Linked DNA regions of Homo sapiens: region 2 is linked to region 1. Evidence: fine-mapped expression QTL. Tissue or cell type: whole blood. Region 1 holds a variant in brackets; the other region holds the start of a gene. All regions are shown on one strand. Distances are between the middles of the regions.

Region 1 (8,098 bases):
ATGAGCCACTGTGCCCGGGCTGTTTAAGTCCTAAAAGAATGCTTGTGGCTGGGTGTGATGGCTCACTCCTGTAATCCTAGCACTTTGGGAGGCCGAGGTGGGCAAATCACTTGATGTCAGGAGTTCGAGACCAGCCTGGCCAACATGGCGAAACCCCGGCTCTATTAAAAATACAAAAAACTAGCTGGGCGTGGTGGTGCACGCCTATAATCCCAGCTACTCGGGAAGTTGAGGGAAGATGAGGCAGGAGAATCGCTTGAACCTAGGAGGTGGAGGTTGCAGTGAGCCGAGATTGCACCACTGCACTCCAGCCTGGGCGACAGTGAGACTCCATCTAAAAAAAAAAAGAATGCTTACAACTGAGAGTGATGAAACTAGGCCAAGGACCGCCCCCCACCTCCCCAGGAGCCTCTCTGGAGGCTCACACCTGCTGGTCCTGTCCTTGAATAGACAGAAAAAAGGTTCCCCCTGTTCTCTGAATTTCTTTTCGGTGTGATAGATCTCATTGCCTGTGCATTTAACACTCCTAAATTTTATAAAACGATTATTTCTTTGGCATTTATCCAAGAGAAATGAAAAACCAATGTTCATGCAAAAACATGTTCTAGAATGTCCATAGCAGCTTTATGTGTAATAACTCCAAACTGGAAACAAGGAAAAAGTTCCCTTCAGCTGGGGTGTGGTGACACTCTGCTCCGTCTGTGCCTCCAGATCCTACTCTGTTGGGAACTGTTGACACACAAGAGTTTGCAAGGATCTCAAGAGAATTATGCTGAAGGAGAAAAGCCAACCTCAGAAGGGTGCTTGCTGTGGGATCCCATTTATGCCACATTGTTGGGCTGACCCAGAGCTGAAGGGTGGCATGGCCAGAAAAGGACCTACACAGGGAGGCCAGGGTGTCTGGTCCTGGCAGGAGAGCAGCCGTGGAACAGGGTAGGAACACAGACGTGGAGCTCAGTGGAGGAGGGAAGGAACGCTTAGCTGTGGGGCTTAGAGACTTGGCAAAACAAGAGGAAGCTTTACCAGCAAGTGTGCAGAAATAGTGCGGGAGAAAGTTGGTGGAGCGTTCCACCTTCTTAGGATGCAGTTTAATAATGTTTATCAAGCCTCTTAAAAATGTACCTGCACATCACCCTAGTAAGTAAAGAGCCGAGGCTAAGGAAGCCAAATGCTAGAAATACCAAAACACCTAAAGTTAGAAACTGGTATCATTTGTGATTGGGAAAATTGTCAGTAGTGTGAAACTTCCCTCCCTTGTGCAGAGAGGAAAGTGCTGGGAGAAACGACTGGAAAGGAGGAACCCAGGTGGTGACTGTGTTTTTCTGAGTGGATGGGATCCTGGGAGAAAATTCGTTTTATGGTTTTTGATGCTCTTCCAGATTGTCTATGGTGAGCTGTGGAAATAAGCAACCAGGTGAGAACAGGCAGAGGCTGTTTATCCAGAGCTTCCCCTAGCAAGGGTGCGGCCCTCCTCTCTCGTGATTGGCAGAAACTCATAGGCAGGTGAGGGAACAGGAGAGCTTTACAGTGGAATCCAGGGAAGCTCAGGGATGGCTGATGGAGGCTGCTGACTTGGGGGACTGGGGTGGCCAGTTAGAAGTGGGGCTCCTGGCCTGGCACGGTGGCTGACGCCTGTAGTCCCAGCACTTTGGGAGGCCAAGGTGAGTGGATCACCCGAGGTCAGGAGTTTTGAGACCAGCCTGACCAACATGGTAAGTCTCTACTGAAAATATAAAAATTAGCCAGGCCTGGTGGTACACCCTTGTAATCCCAGCTACTCGGGAGGCTGAGGCAGGAGAATCCCTTGAACCTGGGAGGCGGAGGTTGCGGTGAGCTGAGATTGCGCCACTGCACTCCAGCCTGGGCGACACAACAACAACAACAAAGAAGTGGGGCTCCTGTGAGATGGCCTAGAACATGTTTGGCTTTCTCTGGTTGGTCCTAAATTGGAAGCAGGGACAAAAACTGGAGAGGTTGTCGGTTACTAATCATGTCCTGGCCATTTTGGGCTGCTTGCTATGGAAATGATTGTTTAGCTTCCTGGATTGTTCCTAGAGAAAGCAGCCAGGCTTCCTGCAGGTCTGACTAGGGCAACCTGGCTTCCTGGCCCGTTACTGAAGGTAAAGGGCTGGTTTCCGACTGATGGCGGCAGATAATGGCTGAGAGTTCTGTTTCTGTATGTGGTTCCGCCATTGTTTGTTGGTATATTCCCTCGCTCAGAGCAGATGTTATTAGGGTGATTTCTGACGGTCACGTATTGCTAGTGCTGCCCTTAGGACCGCTGACAGCACCAGGCCAAGCACTGAATTCATCCTCTTAAGATCCCCAGTGGGAGGCTTCTAGTATCCATATCTGGCTTTCAGAAAAGGGCGGGAGGGTCTGTCGTTGGGTTTGGACTCAGGACCTGGCATTTCTAAGGACTCAGAGGAAAGGAAAGTGGGACCCAGAGGGTCCTAGGAGCTTGGGACAGCTTCTTGAACTGGTTCCCAGTGTGGTTGTGGGTCTTCTTGGCCTGTCCCATTGGTATTCTTGTTCCTTCTGTGAGTTGCCCTGATTGCCCTGCTCAGTCGTGCTGACCTCCTGTAGGCCCCACATTATGGGGGTTGTGCTGCTGGGTTTCCAGAGTCAGGGGAGGCAGCCAGGGGTTCTTCTGTCTATAAACTTGGGCTTAATGCATGCTGTTCAAGAGGATTTGGTTTGGGTCCTAAATTAATCCATTGCTATGCAGGCTTGGGATTGAGATAGGTTGAAAGAGAAACTAAAAACCTAAAAGGTATATTGACTTCCCACAGAGGAACCCGTGGGACTTAATCTTTTCCCCAACGCAGGGTGTCCTTTGTAGTTTGACATAGCCTTATGTTAATTCTCGATATACTTAGCAATTTTAAGCCAGTGATTTAAACAATGGATTGGGATGGAAAAGCTCTGAAAAGTTAAATTTGTGGCTGACACAAAGAACTCGAATATTTACCAAAAGTAATAGAAATGTGTAAATGTGTTTTGGTGGTAAACTGTCCTTCATTTAGAATTAGTTGAGAAGCTGGTGTATGCAGGTGTGAGAGGCGGTGCCCAGCCTGAGGGCTGTGCCTGTGGTGACACTGGCATGCTGCTCTGGGGAAATGGGTGCTGTAGGGGAAATAAGCTAGGGTTAGGGAAGTTTTCCTTTAATTTTAATTTTGAAATAATTGTAGAGCCAGGGGAGGTTGCAGAGCAGTGTTCAGGAGGTCCTATGTGCCCTTCCTCTGCTCCCCAGGGCCGGCATCCTTGTAGGATGCACAGCCAGGCCCCAGGTCCGTGTGATGACACGGCTGCCGCAGGCGCATGTGTGCGTGTCCGGCGCTGTGCAGTCAGGGTAGGGCCACCCCCACAGCCCAGGAGCAGAAGGGCCCTCACCCCCAAGATCTCCCTGCGCAGGTTCCTTTCTAGCCCTGCCACCCCTCAGCTCTGGGTCAGCATGACAATGTGGCATAAATGGGATCCCATAGCAAGCACCCTTCTGAGGTTGGCTTTTCTCCCTCAGCCTAATGCCCCTGTGGAAGGATCCGTCCTGTGTATCAACAGTTCATTTCTTTCTATTGCAGAGTAGGATTTGGTGGCATGAATGGAGCAGAGTGTGTGTCACCGTGCCCAGGTGAAGGGTACATTTTCCTTGTTTCAGATTTGGAGCTACTACAAATAAAGCTGCTGTGCACATTCTGGAACATGTTTTTTGCATGAACATTGGCTTTTTCTCTGGGATAAATGCCCAAGAGGTCACTTAGTTTTTTAAAATTTACATGTGTTAAAGGCACGGGGATGAGATCTGTGACACTGAAGGGAAATTCAGAGAACAGGGGGACCCTTTCTTCTGTTAATTCAAGGGTAGGACCAGCAGGTGGGAGCCTCCAGAGGGGCTCCTGGGAAGGGGTATGTTTGGCAGCCAGTTCTCCCGCACTGCAAAACTTCCCATCCTTGGTCTCCAGACCCCGAGCAGAGACAGCATGTGCCTCCCATACGCCAGCTTTCCAAGAGCACCTGGGTATACCCTGGTCACAGGGAGCCATCAGATTGACTAAGAGAAAAAGAAGTTCCAAAGTTTGCATATTCAAAAGATTGTAACCCTATTTATGCATAACTTGAATTATTTGAAATAATATTTCACTACATTACAAGCATGAGAAGAGAGAAACTTAATCATGCGTGAGATGCTTGTCCTGTCAGACTCTGCCGGCCAGTATGGCCCTGAGCCAGCTGTCATCCTCCCAGCTCCCCGCAGGCGGCACTGGCTCAGAATGGCATCTGTCAAAAGCCAGAGCCCACCCTCCTGTCTGCTCTGCCTTTAGTGCCCCAGAGATGTCCCAATTTAGAATCAGTTAAAAAAAAAAAAAAACAGTTTGCACAGACTTGTACTTCTGAGAGTAGACATGGCCAATGTCCATCTAGTGCATCTGTGCTGTGCGTCTTAGTGGAACCTGCCCAGCAAGGCTGAGCCTTAGGTGCCATCCCGGAGTTGCCCAGGTCTGGGGTAAGATCCAGGAATCTGCATCTTCAACCAACAGCGCCAGTGCTGAGGCATACGCCGAGAAACACTGCCTTGGCCAGCTCTGGGCTGCCACAACACACTGGTGAGGAACCCACCCCCCCTGCCCCGGACACACACATACCCTGCCATGTTTTGGTTCCTTTGAAGAGAAAGGAGTTGAGATGAGAGGGGAGGTGGCCCCTGAGG[C/T]CATGGTTGTACGGGCTGGTCAGAGCTCTCGAGTGGAGGGCATTGACCTGAGAGATGTCAAGTAGAAAGCAGCCAGGCAGAGCCTGTGCACCTTGGGAGAAATGAACTGGTGGGGCGGGTGGGGGGAGCCAAGGAATGGGTGTGATCCCTAAGGCAGGCAGCATGGGCGGGTGTGGGAGCAAGGGACTGTCCAGGGCCACATAGGCTCGGCCAGGAGACCCTGTGTCCCTTGGAGAATTGTGCACGAAACACAGACCACTCGCTGCATGGGATGAGCATACAGCCCTGCAGTCCTTCCCCTGCGCGTTCCTGGTGGCACAGCTTTCCAGCCCGGCTGTCTGCGACATATAGAGGCTTTTAGTGAAAGCATTGAGGGGGAAGGCACTAACTCTTCTGAACGCAGAAGTGACTTTGTCCGAGGCAGGATCCTGAGGGAAGTCAGAATGGTACGTGTGTGTGCCCGGCCCTGTCCGGCCCCCGCCCTGCGCCCTCTGCAGGCTGGCACGGTTCACATTAATCTCATGTTACCCCAGGGTCTCTTCTTTTGTACACACCACAGTTAGATTTTTGAAACAGATTTTCAGCCAAGCTCTCGAACACTTACATTTCTCTTATATATTTCTCCTATTTTTAGTTCATTTATCTTTTTTGCTATAAAACACTGTCGTGGTACAGTTGAGAGGTTTGTCGTTTCTAACAACGTGACTGTGCCTGGCTTAGGCAGGATGGCAGCTGATCTGGGGGTGGGGGTCTCCCACTGGGCTCCACGTCTCAGCTCTGTTAGGGAGTTACAGCTCTGTCAAGTCCCTGCCAGTTACGGAGTCGCTGCTCCTTGCGTACAGTGAGGGCAGTCAGACGAAATCCAAGGGGCGCTGTCCGCAGAGAGTCTGCCGTGTGCTAAGTGGTGTCTTCCTTGGTTTCTGCAGGACACAATGTTTGCACGAGGACTGAAGAGGAAATGTGTTGGCCACGAGGAAGACGTGGAGGGAGCCCTGGCCGGCTTGAAGACAGTGTCCTCATACAGCCTGCAGCGGCAGTCGCTCCTGGACATGTCTCTGGTGAAGTTGCAGCTTTGCCACATGCTTGTGGAGCCCAACCTGTGCCGCTCAGTCCTCATTGCCAACACGGTCCGGCAGATCCAAGAGGAGATGACGCAGGATGGGACGTGGCGCACAGTGGCACCCCAGGCTGCAGAGCGGGCGCCGCTCGACCGCTTGGTCTCCACGGAGATCCTGTGCCGTGCAGCGTGGGGGCAAGAGGGGGCACATCCTGCTCCTGGCTTGGGGGACGGCCACACACAGGGTCCAGTTTCTGACCTTTGCCCAGTCACCTCAGCACAGGCACCAAGGCACCTGCAGAGCAGCGCCTGGGAGATGGATGGCCCTCGAGAAAACAGAGGAAGCTTTCACAAGTCACTTGATCAGATATTTGAAACGCTGGAGACTAAAAACCCCAGCTGCATGGAAGAGCTGTTCTCAGACGTGGACAGCCCCTACTACGACCTGGACACAGTACTGACAGGCATGATGGGGGGTGCCAGGCCGGGCCCCTGCGAAGGGCTCGAGGGCTTGGCTCCGGCCACCCCAGGCCCTAGCTCCAGCTGCAAGTCCGACCTGGGCGAGCTGGACCACGTGGTGGAGATCCTGGTGGAGACCTGAGCAGGAGCCCTGAGTGCTCACAGCCGCCTCTGACGCATTGACACGTGAGCACTGGCTCCCACGGAGGGTGCGCCTGCCGCCAGCGGCCCAGCCTTGCTGCCCTGTCTGCTGATTCTGAGAAATCCCAGAACAGCCCATTACCAGTGGGGCTGCAGCCCTAGGCCCGTCCCACTCACCTCCCCCCTGTGGAGCGCCAGGCAGAGGCTGTTCTGGAAGGCTTCTTGTCTTCTGACGTCCCCACAGCCCTGGGCCCCTCGTGTCTCTTTGTGTCCCCCACTGTAGAGGACGGTGAGCCGCAGCTGCATCAACCTCCTTTTACCTTTAGATAGGTGAATTTTTACAATTCAGTTTTACATGTTTTGGGCAGTATTTTGTCTTAAGATATATTTTTTAAACTTTTTATACCTTATCTCTTTAGATTTTTTCAGCTATTTTCTTAAAAGTATATTTTTTCTATAAACATCCTTTGCTGCTACATTAGAACTTTTATAGCCTAAACAATTGCAGTTGGTGTGTTTCATTTTTTTAAGGTTTAAATAAGGGTTTTTTGTTTTGTTTTGTTTTTTGCAGTGAGCATCACTACAGTCTCAGTCAACAGTGTGAATGTATCATGTTTTACTTTAAATGTGTGTGTGATACTTCTTCATTATGTCCTGCGCTGCAGTGAGACCTGGGTGAAAATCAGGAGCCGCACACAGCCACATCTTCCTAGACCTAAGAGTAAATTATGGAGGATTTTATTTATGTCTATTTATATGTAAATGTCATTGAAGACAAAGGTCAAATATTTGTCTGTTTGTAGATCACAGGCACCAGTTGGTCTTCAGGGACCTCATAGCCCCTCGGTGGTGCCTTCTCAAGGCAGTGTTCCTGGAGGCTCCCATCAGGGTCAGCCCATGCACCTGCCCTGGGTGAGGAAGTAGCATTGCTGCTGGATGAGAAACGCCTGCGCTGCTCTGTTAGACTGGTGCTGAAACAAAAGGTTAAGGCTAGGTTGAAGTCTAGAATGAAAGAAATCTGAATCCATGTCATTCATAACCCCTTGATCTGTAGTGTCATGGGTGCTGCCGCAGGCAGGGAGTGAGCTGGGGGTGCCTGCAGCCTTCCACTCCTGCCCCGCCTCACCCCACATGCTCCCTGTTTCTCATGCTTTCTCTAACTTCCTCACCCCTTAACCAAAAAGGTGTGTTTTCTTTTGTGCATATAGCCATTCTTAAATATCAGTGATGTAAACCTCACTTTATTAAAAAATTATCCAGCAAACAAAATGGGAATGTGGTGTTAGTTACGACCACGGCCTGACCCTCCAGCAACCTTTCTGCAGGATCAGTTCTGCTGTATTATCTGGTGGTGCTTTCTAAGGTGGGGAAAGGAATTGCACTTGGCTGCATTAAATGGACGCTGGGTTACTTTTATTTCCCCCCCCCACAGGGTTGCAGAGCAAATTCTTTTTACATTGTTCAGCGCCCGGCTGGAGTTGGGGGTGTCCACGACCTCTGACAGCCCCCGATGTCGAAAGTTAATCCTCATGGACCCTAGTTTAAAGGGTATGTGTTTTATAGGAATAAATCTAAAGCACTATTTTGTTTCTGTATAGCATTTTTATCTTTTAGAAACATCATTTGTTCAGCATTAGTAGTAGTTGTAGTGCCTGTTTTGGTAGCCTTCAAAATTATAAACTGCTCAGAGAATGTGACTTTTGAGCGCTTTAGGGGTGCTTGGTCGGAAAACA
Region 2 (8,098 bases), 90 kb after region 1:
AGCTCATATGGTCGTGGCCCTCCCTGGTGACCTGCACCTTCCTGGAGGAGCTGGTAGAGGGCCCCCCTTATCTCACGGGCAGATCCAAGGGCAGAAACACAGGCAGCAGCCCCAAACTGAGACCTGCCCCCGCAGGCCTCCATGGGCTCACTTACTGGCAGGAGTCCCTCTGCTGCCTGGCCTCTGCTTCCAGGGGCTCCCAAGCTGGGCTGGAGCCATGCTCCCAGGACCTGGGCACGTCCTTGGGCTGCACCTGGCCCCAGGTGGGAGGACGGGGCACTTGCCACAGGAGGCAGATAAGAGCCACGGAGCCCAGCCACAGCACAGCCAGCGCTCCCAGGACCTGCAACTGGATGGGGCAGCACCCGCAGGGTCACCAGACAGGGCGGGGCTTGACTTCTGGCTGGGCCACGATGGCCCCTCCAGTGCTGAGACAGAGACCGTCTTGACTTCCCGGACCTGGGCTGCCACTGGGGTGGGACTAGGGTGGACAAGGGAGAGGGGAGGGTGATACAGAGAAGGCCCCCAGCCCAGGGTGGTGGCAGGGGTCAGGGGGCCTGCAGCCCACTCTGCAATGCTGTGGCTCGTGGTAACTGGCTGTCCCCAGCACCTCCAGCAGGGGCATAAAGGGAAGGTCTGGAGCAGCCCAGGGAGGCTTCCCTTGCCCACCAGTCAGGGCACCTCTGCTTGGAGGCCCCCTCAAGGCTGCTTGTGACCTCTCCACTCTGGCTCGGAGCTCTTGAAAGGCCATTGATCCCAGCCACCTCCCCCCTGGGGCCCCCCAGTCCTACCGTGCCAGCCTCTCTGTCCCACGGGCGGCGGGGCGGCATGGAGCATGGCCATGTGGGGGCCACTGCTGCTTTCCAAAGAGGCTTCAGCATCTGCACAGGGCAGCCTGGCATCACCAGCAGCTCCAGCTCTGCCCAGAACTGCCCCTCAGTGCCTGGGCAGCTGGGCACTGGGGACACCCCTGCACAGACACCCACATAAGCCCCCAAAAGCCCCCCACTCATGCCCGAGGTCACGCCCTGGATGTTGGGGGTGTGCTTTCCACGAGGACAAGCCGTGTGGGTGTTGGAGCCCGCAGCCGGCCACATGTCACCTGTCCTGTCCCCCTGGCCAAGCCGGAAGGACTGCTGTTAAGGCGGTCCCCAGGGCTGAGCCTGGGCCAAGCACGAGGGGCGGGCGGGCGTCTGTGCCTAGCCACATGCCCCGGCTTTCTGTGTCTCCCCTTTCAGGGTCTCCCACTCAGTGAGTATCTAGGTATTTGCATCTCAGTTCCCTGTTTCAACCACAACTGAAACTGCGTCTGAAAGGGCTGTTTCTGCTTTTGTCGCTTGGTCCTCTTATTGCTGGCCTATAAATAACTGCTTCCCTCCTGGGCTGGGCTCCTGTCTTGGCCCCACGGCAGCCCCTCCAGAGAGCCACAGGTCAGAGGGGGCAGCTGAGCAGTACCCTTGCTGGAGAGGCTAGGCGTGGAGAGGGCAGAGATGGCGGCAGAGTGGGACCCCTACTGCTGGCAGAGGGGGTTGTCCTCTGCTGCAGGGACTCGCCTTATCTCCTCAGAGTGGTCACCCCACAAGGAGCTGGGAGCCAGGCCATCTGGGCCCTGTGGGATGTGGGCTCCCATCCCCACTCCTACCCCCAAAGCAAGCAGTCAGGCTGCCCCAGGTGCCACCATGGGGGAAGGGTGCCTCACAAGTACAGAGGCGCCCTCCCCGGGTGCAGGGAGGGGTCTGTGCCCAGCATGGTCACCTGGCTGGCCAGCCTCTGACTGAGACATCCACCAGGGCAGGAGCTGGCTGGCCCCTGGCTGGGATGGGGATGTCTCCGAGGTTTGGGGCCTGGGCCTGGGCAGTGCTGAGTGCCAGTGTCTGCAGCCAGGCTGGGCGCTGGGACCCAGGGCTCGGTGGGTCGGCTGTCCACCCAGGAGCAGCCAGCTCAGCCTCCAGGCCTCTGGGGTTCGTCTGGGCTGTCCTCCCACGGGTCAGGGCTGAGGGCTTTGAGAACCTGGCCTGCCTCAGCATGGGGCGGAAATGCCAGGAACACCACAGGAGTCGGGCCTGGACTGAGTCTGCCCTGGAGACCAAGCGTTATGGGGGATTGGGGGTAGGAGCATAAACCAAGTGTGGGGACAGGGGACTCAGGCCAAGTCACTGCGGCCCAACTCCCCCCACGCTGGGGGGTCCTGCAGAGGTGGGTGGGTGCCGCCCCCACCCCAGAGCTGAACTCTGGGGGATGCTCCCCCCACCCCACAGAGGAGACCTCAGGGTGCCCACCGTGTCCCCACTGTCCCCAGGGATTCAGGGCCCAGCATCGGGCCTTTGCTCTCCCCCACTAACTCTCAGAAGAGGAAACATGGAATCCTGGGCTGTGGCTGGTCAATGAGAGGAAACATGGAATCCTGGGCTGTGGCTGGGCAACGAGGTGCCAGGGCTGTTCTTGGACAGCTGCTCCCCACACTCCCTGCCCTCACCAGAGAGGACCTTTGCTCCCTTAAATGCTCCAGGCAGACGGGCAGCTCAGAGCACAGAGGCGCTGCCTCTTGCAGGCCCCATCTCAGACTTGGAGCCTGTCCAAGTCCCCTCCCAGGACTACAGACCCCAGAGCGCCTCACCACCTCCTCCTGCAATGGAACCTGGGAGGACCGCCAGCCAGGTTGGCTCAAGCTGAGAGACCCCTGCAGAGTAGGGCTGTAGCCCCCTGGTCCCATGGTAGATAGCGTAAGACCCTGCAGACATCAGAGGTCATGGCTGAAGGTGCCAGATTTCCTGCCCTGCAGGGCATTAGGCATGGCTGCCAGTCCCAGGCTGAGGTAGAGGGCCCAGCTGTCACCTGGCTGGAGAGCCAGGGCCCAGCTTATCCCAGCTGCACGGACTGGGGACGGAGCGAGTCATCTACAGGACTAGCTGGAGGCTGTGTGACTCTCTGGACCTGGGGTTGCTGGGAGGCTGAGGCCATAGGGAGGCAGACAGCAGCCCTTTCCCCATGCCTGGCTTTTCTCAGCTGCCCTGGCCTCATTGGCACATACCTCTGGGGGTCCTGCCTTGGTGTCTATCCTGATTCCAGCCGCAGACTGCAGGCCCTCAGCTCACGGGGCAGGCTCGGTGCTGCCTGTGCTCCACACCAACCTCCTCTTCTCTGCAGCTCACCTCCTCCTCTCTGCAGCTGGCTCCTTCCCCTTCCAGCTACTTCCTCTTTGTCCTGAGAGGCCCCCTCTCATCTGAGACAGAAACAGACGGCTGGAGCTGGGTGGGCGGGCTAGAGGGTAGGGCTGAGAACCTTCACCTCCAGGAAAAATCTACACCCCACTCCCTCGAGGTAGAGGCCCTCCAGTTGCGGGCCTACGAATCGGAGTCAAGTTCAGCTGCAGGCCACAGACACCTAAGGAACAGTGGCTTCAGCAAGGTTGTTCATTACTCTCGAACACTAAGCAGGTCCAGGGGCTGGCAGGCTAGAGACGGCCTTGCTAGAGATGATGGCATTGCTCCACTGCCATTGGGAGCCAGGCTCTCAGATCCCAGTCCCTAGGATCCCTGCCTTCATGGCCTCACAGTGGCTGCTGGAACTCAGCCATTGCCTCTGTGTTCTTAGCAGAGAATAAGGGACATCCCAGAGGAGACTTCCTGGAAGTCCCACAGGGCACTTCCACTTATCTGTGATCTGGAACTTGATCTAGAACTTAGTCACATGGCTACACTTAGCTGCAAGGGAGGCTGAGCAATGGAGGTAACTAGGGTCTTTATCTTGGAGAACGAAGCTGGGGCTGCTCACTGGCATATCTGAAAAGGTGGGCCTGGCTAGAAGCTCCTAGCAAGGGGCTCTGCCTCCCACTGCCCCACCCCCCGACTGGGGTCCCTGAGTAAGGTCTGGGACCTTGAGAACACTCCTACTTTCAATGAGGTCTGGGTGTCCACCCTGGCTCCTCCTTGTAAGGCCTATGTAGGGCAGGGGTCCAGGGTGATGGCCTCAGGGTGCCTGCAGGACACCAGTCAGGAGGGTGCAGTTCCCAAGGGTGGGGCCTGTCAGCTGCACCCCTGGGGCCAGTCTGGGTGGGCCAGGAAGTGAATGGGGAAGAGATCCATCCTCTCCCTAGCCCCTCCCAGATCTCTCTTCACCTTCCTGATGCTCTGATTTGGCCTTGGGTTCAGCCCTTACCTCCCGGCCATGGTTGGGGAGCCCCAGCCCTCTGGCTGGGTTGCTGGATGCCTGAATGCAGCTGGGCCCCAGGCATGCCCCCGAGGGTTGGGTCCTCCAGGGACTCTGGGTGAGGGTTACTCTGGGTATGGGGAGGGGCAGCCAGGTGGGTCCTGCTGTGACATTTGCAGGGCTGGGGCATGAGTATGAAGGGAGGCTGCCTTCCCTGCACTCAAGCAAAAGGCAGTTAGACAGAACAGGTTCTCTTCTGTCTTTTTTTTTTTCTTTTTCCTTTGAGAGAAGTCTCGCTCTTGTACCCCAGGTTTGAGTGCAACGGCTTTATCTCGGCTCACTGCAACTTCTGCCTCCCGAGTTCATACGATTCTCCTGCCTCTGTCTCCCAAGTAGCTGGGATTAAGGCACGTGCCACCACGCCCGGCTAATTTTTGTATTTTTTATTAGAGACGGGGTTTCACCATGTTGGCCAGGCTGGTCTCGAACTCCTGAACTCAGATGATCCACCCGCCTCGGCCTCCCAAAGTGCTGGGATTACAGGCGTGAACCACAGCGCCCAGTCTCTTCTGTCTGGACAACAATGGTGTGTGAGGGCCTGGAAGGCCAGGGGCAAGTGGAGGACCCCAGGGCTCCTTGGAGCACTCTCAGAAGTCCTTGCAGGAGGGCCAGCCCCAGCCAGTCCCCTCTCCGATTTCCCCACATTGTGAGGGGCCTCAATGAGCCCACATGCTACACCCAGCCCGTGGGTCTGAGCTCATTGCAGCCCCAGAAAAGCACCACGTCACCTCCCCTGGCTGCCCCTCAGGCCAGCAGGACTGGGTACAGCTCAGGCAGCTCTACCTCGGGAGGATGGATCCAGGCTTGGGGATGTTTAAGCAAGGAATCCTGGGCCTTGGGCTCAGGGTTCGGTGGACTGTCCTCTTGGCCTCTCAGGCTGCTTACCCTGGAAGAAAGATTGAGGCTGGAAGGGGCGTCTAGATTCGGGACCCAGGGCAGGCCTCTCAGTGGCTCCGAGGCTGGCTGTGTGGCCAGGAACGACCTGAGGGCAGCTCCTTGCCGGCTCTGCTCCCTGCGCTGCAGGCCCCACCCTGAGGTCTAGGGCCCTTTGGTCCCATGGGGTGTGGGGAGGGACTTTGGGGATTTCCCATGAAGCAAAACTTTTTTTTTTTTTGAGATGGAGTCTTGCTCTGTCGCCCAGGCTGGAGTGTAGTGGCGCCATCTCGGCTCACTGCAAGCTCCGCCTCCCAGGTTCAGGCCATTCTCCTGCCTCAGCCTCCAGAGTAGCTGGGACTACAGGCGCCCGCCACCATGCCCAGCTAATTTTTTGTATTTTTAGTAGAGACGGGGTTTCACCGTGTTAGCCAGGATGGTCTCAATCTCCTGACCTCGTGATCCACCCGCCTCAGGCTCCCAAAGTGCTGAGATTACAGGCATGAGCCACCGTGCCCAGCTAGTGCATATGTGTTTCTAGTTATTATATCTTCCTTATGGATCACCCTCTTATCATTATAACACATCCTTCTTTGTCTCTAACAATAATTTTTGTCTTAATATCTATATTTTCTGATATTAGTATAGGAACTCCACCTCTCTTTGAGTTGCTGTTTGAATGTTATATCTTTTCCTGTCATTTTACTTTTTTTTTTTTTGGACGGAGTCTCGCTCTGTCGCCCAGGCTGGAGTGCAGTGGTGTGATCTTGGCTCACTGCAAGCTCTGCCTCCCAGGTTCACGCCATTCTCCTGCCTCAGCCTCCCGAGTAGCTGGGACTACAGGTGCCCGCCACCACGCCCAGCTAATTTTTTGTATTTTTAGTAGAGACGGGGTTTCACCGTGTTAGCCAGGATGGTCTCAATCTCCTGACCTCGTGATCTGCCTGCCTCGGCCTCCCAAAGTGCTGGGATTACAGGTGTGAGCCACCGTGCCCAGCCTGAACATTTTTTCTTTAATTTCCTTTGTTATTTCAAAAATTAACTTTGTGGGAAAATATGACTCATTATTTGTCAGCAGAGCTAAGTTTTTTGTTTTTTTTTTTTTTGTTTTTTTTTGTTTTTTACCCCAAATAAGTACAGACTGTCAGAGCAGGCTTGTGGGAGCACTTAAACCCCACCGTAAGCACATCAGACACACCTCACCTCATGGTGGAGCTATGTCCTGATAAGCCCATCATAAATGGAAGCTGAAAATATTCTAAGTTGATAATGAAGAAAAAAAGAGAGACAACCCAAATAACCAAAACCAGAAACAAAAAAGAGACATTACAACTGATATCACAGAAATACAAAAGATCACCAGAGACTACATGAGAAATTATACACTCAGAAACTGGAAACCTGGAGGAAATGGAGACATCCCTGGACACGCGTAGCTGCCGAGATTGAATCAGGAAGAAACAAAAAAACCCGAACAGATCAATAAGGAGTGATGAGATTGGAACAGTAATAAAAATCTCCCAACAACAACGCAAAAGGCCTATAGACCAGATGGCTTTACTACTAAATTCTACCAAACTTACAAAAAAGAACTAATACCATTTCTCCTTAAACTGTTCCAAAAAACTGAAGAGGAGGGAATTCTCTCTGACCCATTCTATGAGGCCAGCATTATCCTGATACTCAAACCAGGCAGGGACACAACAACAAAAAAGAAAACTACAGGTCAATATTCCTGATGAATAGATACACAAAAATCCTCAACAACATACTAGCAAATTGAATCTAATAGCACATTGAAAGATAATACATTATGACTAAGTGGGATTTATCCTGGGGATGCAAGGATGGTTCAACATACGCAAATCAATACATGCAATACGTCAAATCACAGATTAAAGGACAAAAACCGTATGGTCATCTCAATAGATACAGAGAAAGCATGTGATAAAATTCGACATCCCTTCTTCATGATAAAAACTCCCAGCAGGCTGGGCAAGGTGACTCACGCCTGCAATCCCAGAGTTTTGGGAGGCCAAGGTGAGAGAATCACTCCAGACCAGGAGTTTGAGACCAGCCTGCACAATACAGTGAGACCCTGTTGCTAAAAAAATTTTTTTTAATGTGACCAGGTGCAGTAGCTCATAATCCCAGCATTTTGGAAGGCCGAGGTGGGCAGATCACTTGAGTCTAGGAGTTTGAGACTAGCCTGGCCAACTTGATGAAACCCTGTCTCTACTAAAAATACAAAATTAGCCAGGCATGGTGGCGCATGCCTGTAGTCCCAGCTACTTGGGAGACTGATGCAGAAGAATCACTTGAACCCAGGAGGCAGAGGTTGCAGTGAGCCAATATGATGCCACTGCACTCCAGTCTGGGTGACAGAGCAAGACACTGTTTAAAAAATAAATAGGCCGGGCACGGTGGCTCACGCCTGTAATCCCAGCACTTTGGGAGGCCAAAGTGGGCGGATCTCTTGAGGTCAGGAGTTTGAGAACAGCCTGGCCAACATGGCAAAACCCTGTCTCTACTAAAAATACAAAAAATTAGGTGGGCGTGGTGGCAGGCGCCTGTAATCCCAGCTACTCGGGAGGCTGAGGCAGGAGAATCGCTTGAACCCGGGAGGCTGAGGTTGCAGTGAGTCGAGATTGTGCCATTGCACTCCAGCTTGGCAACAAGAGCGAAACTCAGTCTTGAAAAAACAAATCAGGCAAAAGATCTGAATAGACATTTCTCAAGAGACATACAAATGGCCAACAGGCATACGAGAAAAATCTCAGTATCACTAGTCATCAGGGAAATGCAGATCAAAACCACAATGAGATATCATCTCACCCCAGTTAGAATTGGTGTTATCAAGAAGACAAAAAATAAATGCTGACAAGGATGCCAAGAAAAGGGAACACTTATGCTCTGTTGGTGGGAATGTAAATTAGTGAAGCCATTGTGGAGAACTGTATGGAAGTTTCTCAAAAAACTAAAAACAGAACTACCATACGATCCAGCAATCCCACTA

Evidence for each region. PIP is the estimated chance that this variant, and not a neighbour inherited with it, causes the effect.
Region 2: it holds the start of PLD4, and the variant in region 1 is fine-mapped to the expression of PLD4 in whole blood (INTERVAL, PIP above 0.99).

The regions. Positions count from the first base shown.
Region 1 is chr14:105,009,472-105,017,569 of GRCh38, reverse strand. CDCA4 (cell division cycle associated 4) reads left to right here. Exons shown (of 2, transcript NM_017955.4): 2 at 5,635-7,997. The coding sequence starts at 5,641. The coding sequence ends at 6,366. Among named protein-coding and RNA genes, the nearest start is that of CDCA4, 7.6 kb to the left of the region's middle. The variant C/T (reference allele first, on the strand shown) is at 4,709.
Region 2 is chr14:104,919,924-104,928,021 of GRCh38, reverse strand. PLD4 (phospholipase D family member 4) reads right to left here and starts at 3,143. Exons shown (of 11, transcript NM_138790.5): 1 at 3,032-3,143; 2 at 792-881; 3 at 156-349. The coding sequence starts at 881. RefSeq lists enhancers at 2,309-2,818, 2,801-2,970, 5,365-5,414.